Homo sapiens: one gene and its partner. The protein of the gene in region 1 interacts with the protein of each later gene in a pairwise test. Each region holds a gene or a part of one and is shown in the gene's direction. Other genes may lie near its edges.

Evidence for each region. Proteins that work in one complex are often made in the same cells at the same time.
Region 2: the proteins of ZBED1 (region 1) and FNDC11 interact in binary tests that used the Homo sapiens proteins (3 or more experiments, as listed by UniProt).

The regions. Positions count from the first base shown.
Region 1 is NC_000023.11:2,490,881-2,498,093, reverse strand, and holds part of ZBED1 (E3 SUMO-protein ligase ZBED1), read left to right. Parts: intron 1-7,213.
Region 2 is NC_000020.11:63,550,058-63,557,158, forward strand, and holds FNDC11 (fibronectin type III domain-containing protein 11), read left to right. Parts: upstream 1-4,101; 5' UTR 4,102-4,149; exon of another isoform or gene 4,150-4,214; intron 4,215-4,285; exon of another isoform or gene 4,286-5,111; intron 5,112-5,117; exon of another isoform or gene 5,118-5,504; coding exon of another isoform or gene 5,505-5,509; exon of another isoform or gene 5,510-5,537; coding exon of another isoform or gene 5,538-5,606; coding exon 5,607-6,563; 3' UTR 6,564-6,638; downstream 6,639-7,101.

The DNA.
Region 1 (7,213 bases):
TTCATCATGGAAAAACAAGATAATTACAAATTAATCATAGATGTTGGTCATGCCTTTACAGAGGGGGTTTAGAAGCAAATTGAGAATTCCCATAAGAGGGTCTGTCTCTGTGTTCTTAAGACTATATCCATGCGGCCCATTCAGTAAGTTGTATCTGTTGGTTGGATTTTAAAATAGATGATTTAATCAGTGCATTTAATATCCTAATATGGCATCAAAACTTGAACATTGATATGGCCTGAAATCTGTTGAAAATGATCATATTGAGTAAAGAAAGTCTCTACCCACCGGTATTAATAACAGGGTGATCTGTTTAGAAATTACATTTTCTCTGATACATCAATGAGTTTTGCAAAGGAGAGAAAATTGATGGTACCTGTAGTCAAGTCCAGTTCCAATACTGCCACAGAATTTTTCTTAAAAGTTCTATTGTAAATAATAGGCCACAGAATATTCCTTCACTTTCTGGGATGCAAAATGGATTCGTAAATGCTGTACCACAGGAGTGAGTATTTACAAAAAATATGCCAACTGGCCCACTTACAAAGCTATTTATAGAAGTCCTACTTTTCAAACTATTTTTTTTTTAACCTGTAAAGGGAAAGTTAATTCTTGTTGGTTTTATGAGTAGTGAACAGTGGCTATTAGAAATCAGGTAGAAGTAAAAACAGCAGTTTTCCAACTTCTTCTTCTTTTTCTTGAGACCAAGTTTCGCTTTTGTTTCCCAGGCTGGAGTGCAATGGCGTGATCTCAGCTCACCACAACCTCTGCCTCCCGGGTTCAAGCGATTCTCCTGCCTCAGCCTCCCGAGTAGCTGGGATTACAGGCATGTGCCACCATGCCTGGCTCATTTTGTATTTTTAGTGAGATGGGGTTTCTCCATGTTGGTCAGGCTGGTCTCAAACTCCTGACCTCAGGTGATAGTCCACCTTGGCATCCCAAATTGCTGGGATTACAGGGGTGAGCCCCTGCCCCCGGCCTCCAATTCCTTGATCATAGAATCTCTTTCAAAAAAAATGAGGACCCCAGACAGTTTTTGTTTTTGTGGATTATAACAGTCAATAAGTCATCCTGTTAGACATTAAAACAGAAATTTAAAACATATTTAACAATCTATTTAAAAGTAATGGTAACAGGCCAATTACATGTTACATACAAAAATGTATGTAATATATTTATTGTTTTTATATTTTATTTTTATTAAATATATATATTTTTAGAATAATTTATACTTTTCTATAAATATAAAATACAAATAAGTTATATTTATATAATTTAGATGTAAATAAAAACAATTGATATTTTTATATAAATATATAAATGTGTACACTTATGGGGCACAGTGTGATGCTTTGCTGTATGTTTGCATTGTGGAATAATTAAACTAATATCTATCACCCGCTATTTTTCCTTTGCGGTGGGAACATTTAAAATCTCTTTTAGCTATTTTTGTTTTTTATTTCCATAGGTTATTGGGGAACAGGTGGTGTTTGATTCCATGAGTAAGTTTTTTAGTGGTGATTTGTGAGATTCTGGTGCACCCATCACCCAAGCAGTATACACTGCACGCAAGACATTTAAAATCTCTATTGGCGGGCCGGGTGCGGTGGCTCATGCCTATAATCCCAGCACTTTGGGAGGCTGAGGCGGGTGGATTGCCTGAGCTCAGGAGTTTGAGACCAGTCTGGGCAATACAGTGGAACCCCATCTCTACTAAAATACAAAAAATTAGCTGGGTGTGGCAGTGTGCGCCTGTAGTCCCAGCTACTTGGGAGGCTGAGGCAGGAGAATGGTGTGAACCTGGGAGGTGGAGGTTGCAGTCAGCCAAGATTGCGCCACTGCACTCAAGCCTGGGCAACAGGGCGAGACTCCGTCTCAAAAAAACCAAAAAAACAAAAAAACAAAAACAAAAATAAAAACCTCTTTTAGCTATTTTGAAATATGTAATACACTATTAACTATCGCCACCACGCTGTGCAGTAGGTCACTGAAACGGATTCCTCCTGTCGAACAGAAACTTGGTACCCTTTGGCCATGTGCTGTATGTTTTTTAAAAGAAAAATGATTGTCATTTCCAAAATAACAAAAACCTAGGGAGAAGAGTGGCTGAGTTTTAGGGTTTTGTCAGTCTCATCCATAAAGGGACGGATGGCGGCTGGCTCCTTCCTCTGCTTCTTCACACTGGTCTCTTGCGACGTGTCGTTCTGGTAAGAGTCATGTGAGGCACATCCACTGGCCTCTCATGGATGTGCAATTGGAAACGTGAAATCGCCGGCCCCCTGAGAGCGTTTTGGGGAGTGTCCCCCCCAAACCCCCCTCCCCCCGCACTGGGGATGCTGCACCAGTCTTGAAGAATGAGGCAGTGAGAGGCTGGTTTACAGCAACCTTTATTCGTGGCCTTGTGTGCTCGGAAGCGCTGCAAGGGAGGAGGAAGGAGGAAGGAGGGTACTCACTGCAGAAGGTCAGCTCTGCTGTGGCTGTTACGTGGGTTCAGGTGGAACCCACCTACTGTGTGGACGGTTCTTTACCTGGGAATCCCATGGAATTCTGACAGCAGGAGACGTGGGAGGGAGCTTCTTGTTTCTCCTTCCAGGAGTCACTTGGTTAGGGGTTTGGGAATTTTGGCTCTTAGTACAAAACTTCACTCCAGGTACTAGACCTGTTTCAGCCAAATGATGATCATCATAATAGAATAGAAACCTTTGTTCACCTAAATAATAACAATAATATTAATAATAATAGAATATAAACCTTTGTTCATGGTACTGGGGCGTCTTTCAGCCCAATAATAATAACAACAATAGGAATAATGATAATAATGATAAAATATAAACCTTTGCTTCACGTCCTGGAACGTCTTTCAGCCAAATAATAATAATAATATTAATGATAATAGAATATAAACCTTTGTTCAGGGTACTGTGACTTCTTTCAGCCCAGTAATAATAATAATAATAGTAATAATGATAATAATGATAGAATATAAACCTTTGCTTCATCTCCTGGAACGTCTTTCAGCCAAATAATAACAATAATAATAATAATGACAATAGAATATAAACCTTTGTTCAGGGTACTGTGACCTCTTTCAGCCCAGTAATAATAATAACAGTAGTAATAATGATAATAATGATAGAATATAAACCTTTGCTCCAGGTCCTGGGAGCTCTTTCAGCCAAATAAGAATAATAATAGAATATAAACCTTTGTTCACAGTACCAGGACCTCTTTCAGACCAACAATAATGACAGTAATAATAATTATAATGATAATAGAATATAAACTTTTCTTCTAGGTACTGGGACCTCTTTCAACCAAATAATAATAGTGGAATATAAAACTTGGCTCTAGGTACCAGAACCTTTTTTCAGCCAAATAGTAATAATAAGAATAGTATTAATAGAAAACAGACCTTTGGTCCAGGTACTGGGACACCTGTGAGCCAAATAATAATAATAATGATAATAATAGAACATAAACCTTTGACTGAAGTGCCAGAACCTTTTTCAGCTAAATAATAATAATAAAATATAAACTTTTGTTCCAGGTACCCGGACTTCTTTCAGCCTAATAATAATCATAGAATATAAACCTTTACTACAGGTCCTGGCACCTTTCTCAGCCAAATAGTAATAAAATAGAATATAAACTTTTGTTCTGTTACTGGGACCTCTTTCAGCCTAATAACAAAAGTAATAATAATAGAATAAAAACCTTTGCTCCAGGTTCTAGAACCTCTTTCAGCCTAATAATAATAATAATGATAGAATGAAAATTTTTGTTCCAGGTGTCGAGACCTCTTCCAGCCTAATAATAATAATAATGTAATAATATAAGCCTTTGCTACAGGTACCAGGACCTGTTTCAGCCAAATAATAATAACAGCAATGATAATAGAATATAAACCTTGGCCCCAGGCACTGGGACTTCTTTCAGTCAAACAATCACAATAATAATAATAATAATAGAATATGGATGTTTGCTCCAGCTTTCAGGACCTCTTTCAGACAGATAATAATAACCGAGTACAAACTTTTCTTCCAGGTATCGGGACCTCTTCCAGCCTAAAAACAATAGTAATAATAGCATATATATCTTTTTTTTTGTTTTCTTCTTTCTTTGAGACGGAGTTTTGCGCTTGTTGCCCAGGCTACAGTGCAATGGCGCCATCTCGGCTCACTGCAACCTCTGCTTCCCGGGTTCAAACGATTCTCGTGCCTCAGCCTCCCGAGTAGCTGGGACTACAGGCATGTGCCACTACCACGCCCGGCTAATTTTGTATTTTTAGTAGAGGAGGGGTTTCACCATGTTGTCCAGGGTGGTCTCAAACTCCTGACCTCAGATGATCCACCCACCTTGGCCTCCCAAAGTGCTGAGAGTACAGGCGTGAGCCGCTGTGCCTGGTGCCAGCATAAAAATCTTTGCTACAGGTACTGAGACCTTTTTCAGCCTAATAATAATAACAACCGTAACAATAATAATTAGAATATAAACCTTTGTTACTGGTACTGGGACCTCTTCCAGCCTAATCTTCATAATAATAAAAATAATAATAATAATGGAATTGAAACCTTTCCTTCAGGTTCCAGAACCGCTTTCAGCCACATAATAATAATAATAATGATAATAATAATAATAAATAGAATTTAAACTTTTGTTTGAGGACTGGGACCTCTTTCAGCCCAATAGCACAAATAATAATAATGGAATGTAAACCTTTTCCTCCCAATTACCAAAACCTGTTTCAGCCAAATAATAATATGATGATGATGATGATGGAGGATCTGATACAGCTGTGTCCTGTCACTCAGGTCGGACTTAGGAGGCCTCTTGAGATTCTTTTCCCCCTCCGTTGACTGTGTAATCCAGGGGCCCCACCCTAACTCGGCTGCAGAAGATGCAGTTTGGGGGTTCCTCGTTTTGTGGAAGTCCCGGTCATGTTATTCATTCTCTCAGCACCTTAGAACAAACCAGGGTGCTGGCATTGGCCACAGGACCCCCCTCCTTGCACCCCAGTCTTGGGAAGTGGCACTGCTGGGCTCTGGCAATGCCCAGCTCACCTGGCACGTGGCGGCGTCTCCCTAAAAAGCACTGGGCGGGCACCGTTGACGGAAAGCCAGCAACGCAGGCCGCGACTGCCCGTGAAGACGGGGGGCCTTTCTAAGACCTCCACTCATTATTTCGGGCAAAATTAACCTTCAGAATACCTTGCTTTAATAAAGTACCAGAAACCGGAGGGCTTAAAACCATAGCTTATTCTCTCCCAGTTCTGGAGGCCAGAAGTCTGTAATCAAAGTGTCTCAGGGCTGCGCTCCCTCCGGAGGCTTACGCGGAGGGTGCTTCCTGCCTCTCCCAGCTCCTGGGGGCTCCTGGCGTCCCTGGGCTTCAGGCCAGCCACATCATCACTCTAGTCTCTGCCTCTGTCTCCATGTGGCCTTCTCTGTGTCTGTGTCTCCTCTTCTGTCTTTTATAAGGACATCTGTCACTGCATTTAGGGCTCACTCAAATCCCGGATGATCTCATCTCCAGATCCTTAACTCATGAGATCTACAAAATTTCTAATAACCAAGTAAGATCTCATTCCACATCCTGGGCTTTAGGCTGTGGACAGATCTTTCTGCGGGCCACTGTTCAATCCACCATGATTTTATCCAGTTCATTGTGGAGGCTCTAGAGGAGGATCCTTCCTGCCTCTCCCAGCTCCTGGGGGCTCCAGGCGTTCTGGGTTTGTGGCCGCATCACTCCAGTCTCGGCCTCTGTCTCCATGTGGTCTTCTCCTGTGTGTCCGTGTCTCCTCATCTGTCTTCTATTAAGGACACTGGTCACTGCATTTAGGACCACCTCAATTGAGAATAATCTCATCTAAAGATCCTTACCTTCATTATTAATACATCTGCAAAGACCCTTTTTCCAAACAAGGTCCCATACACAAGTACCAGGTGGATACAGATTTTCTTTGGTAGGGGAGGACGCTTTTCAACCCACTATAGTCATCATTGAAATATGCCTCCTTGCACTGACTGTATCCCAACACTCTGAACGTGCCTGGGTGGTGCATTTTGATATTTACCCTCCTGAGCACTGTACTGGACACTTGGAGACACAATTACACCTTTTAACAAAGCCCAGCTGTCATTTTGGGCAACCCAGTCACAGAGGTGGCCTCCTGAGTGGCAGCTGGAAGGGCCTGTATGTGTGAGCATTCAACCTCAACAGGAACCCTGGGGACTGGCTTCTGGGTCATCTAAGCCTCCACACCGACTGCCTGATGTTTGCACAGGTGTGTGATATTTGCCCAGTTGGGCCTTTCTGCCCACAGGTGTGACTGGACACAATGGGCATTTTGAGAAGTTCCAGGGATTGAGAAATCCATGCTTCTTCAGACGTGCTTACAGATCACGGATGCACCTGTGACGTTCCACATGGCTTCATTTTAAACCATAAAGTTTGAGAAGAGTGTGCAGTGCCTCTTAGCCATAGGAAAGCTGGCTTTAGTCAGATGGAGGTCCTGTTTGGCTTCTTTAATGCAGTGAATGAAGCTCAGGTGGCATTCAGAGAGTCCTGCTGTGATGGTTGGCAGTGGGGGGTCTGCCTGGCCACTTGTGGATTCTTCTATGTAGGCTTCATCCCCAGAAAAGATCTACGCAGCTTTCCCACGTGGCAGGTGCTTGGGAAACTCTTAGGACAGGAACAACAAGCCCCTGCGATGACAGAGGCATTGTCAGGCTGGGCGCGGTGACTCACGCCTGTCATCCCAGCACTTTGGGAGGCCAAGGCGGGTGGATCACCTGAAGTCAGGAGTTCGAGACCAGCCTGACCAACATGGTGAAACCCTGTCTCTACTAAAAATACAAAAATTAGCCAGGCGTGATGGCAGGTGCCTGTGATCCCAGCTACTGAGGAAGCTGAGGCAGGAAGATCGCTTGAACCCGGGAGGCGGAGGTTGCAGTGAGCTGAGATCACGCCATTGCACTGCAGCCTGGGTGACAGAGCGAAACTCTGTCTCAAAAAAAAAAAAAAAAAAAAACTAAAGGCACTTGTCAGGTACAGCCCTGCAAAAATGCCGTGCTCACTCGCAAACCTGTATGTTGACACGTGCGGCATCGCTGCAGTCGGATTAACGTGGAAGAAAGAGCGTATTCCTGCGCTAGGTTCCCTCCTCCACTCTGCAAAAGTGACCCGCAAGGAAGGTCCAGCCGTCCGGCCCCAGTGC
Region 2 (7,101 bases), on another chromosome or scaffold:
CCCCGCATGCCCAGCTGCCCTGTCCCGCTGCCCTCCAAGTTGTGCCCGCCCGTCCACCCCTTCCTCACCTCACCCACCAGGCGCAACACAGCCCAGCATAGGGCCCCTGCCAGGTGTCGGTGTCAGCAGCCCCTTCCCTGCCTGCTGTGCCCCCCCCACATGACCTCACCTCCTCCCTCAGCCCTAACCGGGTGGGTGGCACAGAGGGGAGTGAGGAAAGGGGCCTGGGTACAGGATCAGTCTGGACGGGGTCAGGAGTCTGGGGCTTGGCCGGGTGAGGCGGCTCACTCCTGTAATACCAGCATCTGGGGAGGCCAAGCAGGAGGATCGCTTAAGCCCAAGGGTTCAAGACCAGCCTGGGCAACATAGTGAGACCCCCATCTCTATTTTTTTAAAAAAAGAAAAGGCTAGGCACGGTGGCTGACACCAGTAATCCCAGCACTTTGGGAGGCCAAGGCGGGTGCATCACCTGAGGTCAGGAGTTCAAGACCAGCCTGGGCAACATGGTGAAACCCCGTCTCCACTAAAATACAAAAGTTAGTCAGGCATGATGGCGGGCACCTGTAATCCCAGCTACTCGGGAGGCTGAGACGGGAGAATCACTTGAATCTGGGAGACAGTGGTTGCAGTGAGCTGAGATCGTCGCGCCACCGTACTCCAGCCTGGGCGGCTGAGCAAGACTCCATCTCAAAAAAATAAAAATGACCAGGGCTGGAATCCTGCTGTCAGACTCACTGTCCACATGACCTTGGGCATACAGTGCTGAACCTCCCTGTGCCTCAGTTTCCCCATCTGTAAGAGCACTGAGCTTACAATGGCAGTGAGGACACAGACCAGGGGGATGGGGTGCAGGGCCCTTCCTGGTGTTCAGATGGAGGCTTGTGGCAGGAGCTCTGCCACATCAGGCCACCCCCCATCCGGGTTTATGTGTCTGGAGGGCACAGCTCTGAGGGTCTCAGTGGTCAGCGTGCATTCTCTCCCCCAAGACTGGCCCCACTACCCCCAGGCTTCACCATCCTCAGGGCCCAGGGAAGAGAGCTTGTCCCCACCAGGGACAACAGATCCAAAGTGTTCACTGCCCGTGCCCTGGTGGCCACAAACAGGGTTGAGCAAGACTGAGCACAAACTGGCCCCTGGTGCCCAGCAGTGAACAGGAGTGACTGTTGACCCTGCACAGAGGGGACTATGCTGAGCGCAAGAAGCCAGTCCCAAGGCTGCATACTGAAAGCCTGCACTGATAGGACATTCTTGAAATGACCAGACAGAGCCGGAGAGATGAGTGGTTGCAGGGCTAGGGAGAGGTGGGAGGGAGCAGCGTGGCTGTAAAGAACATGTCAGGGTCCCGTGGGGGTGGCACTGCCTTGCGTCTGTATCGACGTCAAGGTCCTGGCGTGATTCTGCACTGCAGTCCTGCAAGATGCTACCACTGGGGATGCTGGATAGAGGGTAACGGGACCTCTGTGTTACTTCTTACAACTGCAGATGAATCTATACTTATCTTAAAAGTAAAAGTTTAACTTTATTATTATTATTATTATTTTCGAGACAGGCCTCTGTCTTATTGCACCCAGGCTGGAGTGCAGTGGCACAATCTCGGCTCACTGCAACCTCCACCTCCTGGGTTCAAGCGATTCTCCTGCCTCAGCCTCCTGAGTAGCTGGGACTACAGGCGCCCACCACCACGTCCAGCTAATTTTTTTTTTTTTTTTGAGACAGAGTCTCGCTCTGTCGCCCAGGCTGGAGTGCAGTGGCGTGATCTCGGCTCACTGCAAGCTCCACCTTCCAGGTTCACGCCATTCTCCTGCCTCAGTCTCCCGAGTAGCTGGGACTACAGGCGCCTGCCACCACTCCCAGCTAGTGTTTTGTATTTTTAGTAGAGACGGGGTTTCACCATGGTCTCGATCACGTCCAGCTAATTTTTGTATTGTTAGTAGAGACTGGGTCTTACTATGTTGGCCAGGCTGGTCTTGAACTCCTGACCTCAGGTGATCTGCTTGCCTCAGCCTCCCGAAGTGCTGGGATTATAGGCGTGAGCCACTGCGCCCAGCCATTATTATTCTTTTTAGAGACACAGGGTCTCCCTCTGTCACCCAGGCTGGAGTGCAGTGGCACCATCTTGGCTCACTGCAGCCTCATCCTCCCAGGCTCAGGTGATCCTCCGGCCTCAGCTTTCCAAGTAGCTGAGACCACAGGTGCACACCACCACACCCAGCTAATTTTTCAAATTATTTGTAGAGACAGGGGTCTCCCTGTGTTGCCGAGGCTGGTCTCAAACTTCTGGCCTCAAGGGATCCTCTCACCTTGGCCTCTCAAAGTGCTGAGGTTATGGGCCTGCGCCACCGAGCCTGGCCAAAAGTTTAACTTTAAAAAATTAGATTAGAAATCAGAAATTGAAAGAAAGGGGGTAGGGTGGAGCCCAGGAGAGGGGAGACATCCAGGACCTGCCTGGCCCCAAAAGAGAAGGGGAGGCTGCTCTGCCCCCACCCCGCTTCTCCGTCAGTGGGCTGCAGGGCCGGGGGTAAGGGGTCTAACTCCTACTGCTTCCCAACCCTCCGCGTCAGACAGCACCCCCTTCTCCAAACAACCCCGGCTTTGTCCCCTGGAGCCCTAAATAACAATAACAATAGCTGGCATTTATTGAGTTCCAGCCCAGGCAGGGAGGGCAGGGCAGAAACAGCACCCAACAGGACTGGGTGCAAGGCTCACACCTGTAATCCGGAAGGATCAGAAAGACCCAGGTGGGAGGATCACTTGAGCCCCGGGGGTGAAGACTGCCGCATGGGTGACAGAGCAAGACGCTATCTCAAAAAAAAAACCACCCACATCCACCCACTTCCTGCCAGGCCTAACCCCTGGGGCCTCCATGCACCAAGGGAAAGCTCTTCCAGGGTGGGGTCACCGGGAGGAGGGGGGAGGCTCAAGTTACAGAACAGCCTGGTAGGGGCTCAAAGACGCCCATCCTGGAAGAGGCCCCAGCACTGACCTCCGTGGGGGTGGAGATGAGGAGGATGGAAAGGGTGTCTTCCTCCAGCATCTTCCTGAAGGTGAAGGAGGGGCACCTTGGGGTGTCTAAGATTGTGACCCCAGGAGACCCCCAGCTAGCTGGGGTGTGCTGTGGGGGAACGGGGGGATCCCAGAGGCCCTGAGCCCAACTGAACAGATACAGACGGGACCAGATGGCCTCAGAGCTCCCCTGCGGGGCTCCCTGGAGCTATGGAGACCCCATTTATCCAGAGTCAGGTCGGTGCCTGAGCTTGGGCAGCCCCAGGTGGAAGGAGCCCATGGTGGGAGGAGCCTGTAGTGGGAGGAGCCTGTAGTGGGAGGAGCCTATGATGGGAGGGGCCGTGGTGGGGGGAGCCCGCGGTGGGAGGAGCCTGCGCTGGGAGGAGCCTGTGGTGGGAAGACCCTGTGGTGGGAGGGGCCGTAGTAGGGGAGCCCGCGGTGGGAGGAGCCTGCTCTGGGAGGAGCCTGTGGTGGGAGGGGCCGTGGTGGGGGGAGCCCGCGGTGGGAGGAGCCTATGATGGGAGGGGCCGTTGCGGGGGAGGGGGGAGCCCATGGTGGGAGGAGCCTGTGGTTGAGGAGCCTGCGGTGGGGGGAGCCTGCGGTGGGAGGAGCCTGTAATGGGTGGCATCTGTAATGGGCGGGGCCTTGCTGGGCAGAGCCCGCGGCGGGGGAAGCCGCCCCTCTCCTCTGTCCAGGCGCTGGGTGGTCCATCCGCCTGGTCACCGGCCACTGCCTCTCTCCCAAATTCCTCCGAGGGATTCCCGAGGAGTGCGCTCGGACTGGGGGGTTGAGCAGGAACTCCCTCCCAGTCACCCGAGGCTCCTGCGCCCCGCCCGAAGCCGGGGGTGCGTGGGGAGTGGTGCGCCCGCGGAAGGGCTCCGGGACGGGAACCCCCCTTGGAGCCTGGCTCTTGGACCAGCCACCCGCCGTGGCCCCTCAGTCGGGGACGCGGGCCCCCAGAAGTCTGGGGCTCTCCAGGAAGCGAAGCGGATGGAAGATTACTCGGCTCGGGGTCCCGGGTCCCCACCCCCGCCCCGCCCCCGGGCCGCAGCGTCACAAAGGCCGCTGGTCCCCAGGGCAACCCGCGGAGTGCGGAGGGAGGCTGGGCTCTGGGAAGTCCGCGCGCGGCTCCGCTTCAGAGGCAGGGCAAGTGGGCGCGGTCCTGGGGCGGCGGCGGGGGCCGGGAGAGGAGGGCTGGGGGTCTCGAGAAGGTAAGGGGCAGGCAGAGCGGCCGGGGAGGTGGGCCCGGGCCAGGGGAGCCAAGGGGAGTGTGGTGGAGGGGGTAGAGTGCGGGCACCTGGTGGTCTCAGGGAAGCGGGCCTGGGACCGGGGCGTGTAGGAAGCAGCGAGGGGCTCAGAACCACCTTTCCGGGTTCACGACCAGCCTCTCTGGGTGTTCCACCTGGGCAGCTGCTGGAGACTAGAAAACATCCCTCACACGTCACAGAGGCACGGTTTCCCTCCAGCGGTGAAATCCGCCCCAGCCTCCAGCAAGAGCAGGGCTTAGGCCTGGGGTCCTGGGGTCCTGCTCTCAGCTGGCACCTCACCCCAGACACACTCCCTGCTGCCCCCAGGGGCCTGTTCTCGAGGGATTCCCGAGGAGTGCGCTCGTGAAGTCATATCTGCCTCACGCCCAAAAGGGCAACCCTTCCCGGGCAGATATGACTTCACCACGTACCTGTGTGGCCCTGGGGAACTCAGCAACTGCTTAGCTCTCATTTGTGGGTCGTCCAAGGCCCAAGTGGCTGTGACAACCTGAGATCTCCAGGGTTGCTGGGAGCCGGGGCAGCAACCAGGGGTGCGGCTTGCTCTCCAGGGAGCTGCGGCAGAGCCTGGGGCCACAGCTGCACTCAGCCGGTGCACCCACGGACAGAGGGTCAGACTCGGCTCAGCACTGGGCTCAAGCCCTGGATGAGAACAAGAACCAAGCTTCTTAGCCTCAGGCTCCATCTGGGAAATGGAGTGTCACTTGTGGAGTCCATGAGCTCACCAGGGACAGGATCCCGGGTCCACAGCGAGGGCCCACAGCGTGGGAGGAGGGCTGCTCCTCCGGGCCCAGGCCTGGGCGCCCTCCTCCCATGCTGACCAGCCAGCTGGCCTCGTCTTTGGTGAGGCCTGTCTCTGTGCCCTACAACTGCGGTGAGGCGTGGAGCGTCCCCAGGGAGAACCGGAGCGGGAGGATGGCCCGCGAATGTCCCCGAGGGGGATCCTGTGCTGCTTAGGACCACGCCGTCCCCTCTCCACGGCCCCGAGGGGTGCCAGCAACCCCTTTCAGCAGCAGGGTTAGGAACTGGGGCCCTTGCAAGGCCACAGGTCAGGCGGTTCTGGCCAGAAGTCCGCAGTCCTAGTTCTTCCCTGTCCTGTCCCACAGGCCACTGGTTGTCAGTAGAGGTTTTTGCCCCTCAGTATAAACTGTGTCCAGATCTGTAGGCTGCCCATCCAGCCCTCCAGGCAGCCTCTTCCCATCGAGTTGTGCCCCCGAAGAAGGACAGAGGTCCAGCATGGGGTCAGTGGGCTGAATCCATCCCCCGAACATGCCACAGCCCAGGGGAGGCCAGCCTGCCTGGCAGCTGACACCCAGCCCTCCCCCCAGCTCCCGGATAATGAGCACCCATGTGGCAGGCCTGGGCCTGGACAAGATGAAGCTGGGCAATCCCCAGTCCTTCCTGGACCAGGAGGAGGCAGATGACCAGCAGCTGCTGGAACCAGAGGCGTGGAAGACCTACACCGAGCGCCGCAATGCCCTGCGTGAGTTCCTGACCTCGGACCTGAGTCCGCACCTGCTCAAGCGCCACCACGCCCGCATGCAGCTGCTGCGTAAGTGCTCCTACTACATCGAGGTCCTGCCCAAGCACCTGGCCCTGGGCGACCAGAACCCGCTGGTGCTGCCTAGCGCCTTGTTCCAGCTCATCGACCCCTGGAAGTTCCAGCGCATGAAGAAGGTGGGCACAGCTCAGACCAAGATCCAGCTCCTGCTGCTCGGGGACCTGTTGGAACAGCTCGACCATGGCCGTGCTGAGCTGGATGCCCTGCTCCGGTCGCCAGACCCACGGCCCTTCCTGGCCGACTGGGCGCTGGTGGAGCGGCGGCTGGCGGACGTGTCGGCCGTCATGGACAGCTTCCTGACCATGATGGTGCCGGGGCGGCTACACGTCAAGCACCGCCTGGTGTCTGATGTCAGTGCCACCAAGATCCCGCACATCTGGCTCATGCTGAGCACCAAGATGCCTGTCGTGTTTGACCGAAAGGCGTCGGCGGCTCACCAGGACTGGGCCCGGCTGCGCTGGTTCGTCACCATCCAGCCAGCCACATCGGAGCAGTATGAGTTGCGCTTCAGGCTGCTGGACCCGCGGACACAGCAGGAGTGCGCCCAGTGTGGCGTCATCCCCGTGGCTGCCTGCACCTTCGACGTCCGAAACCTGCTGCCCAACCGATCCTATAAGTTCACCATCAAGAGGGCCGAGACCTCCACGCTGGTGTACGAGCCCTGGAGGGACAGCCTCACCCTGCACACCAAGCCGGAGCCCCTGGAGGGGCCCGCCCTCAGCCACTCTGTCTGAGAGATGATTTTCTAATATTTATCCACTAATAAAGAAGAGTGTAAATGCACATATGGAATTAAAGAAGCAAACCTATTTATGTTTTAAAGGCAGCAGCCACCAGTGTTTTTCCTGGCTCAAAACATGCCAAGCCCCAGGCCTTCTGCTCCTGCTCTTTCCCAGGGGGAGCCACAGGCCGGACCTCCCAAGACAGCTGAGCCTGGAGCAAGAAGTACCAGCCCCTGACACCTACGGGTCCAACGACGACGACAAAAGCTGCTCCACGGGGCCTCTGCGGTCCTAGCCCCCGCCCCTCCTCACCACCCCCATCACCGTGACCGGGCTCCGGCCTTCCTTACCCACCTCCCTGGCTTGTGGGGCTCCCTCAGGGAATGACACTCCTAGGCCGTGATGCCTCCCACCATCCCCTGCCCAGCCTCGAGTGCTCATCAGCACGCCCGCCCGAGGAGGCAGCAGCACCACCGGGGATCCCTGGCTGTGAGCAGCTCAGCCGTGCCCCTCCATGCCCCGCCCCACCTTTTGTTCCTCAAGGGCCTTC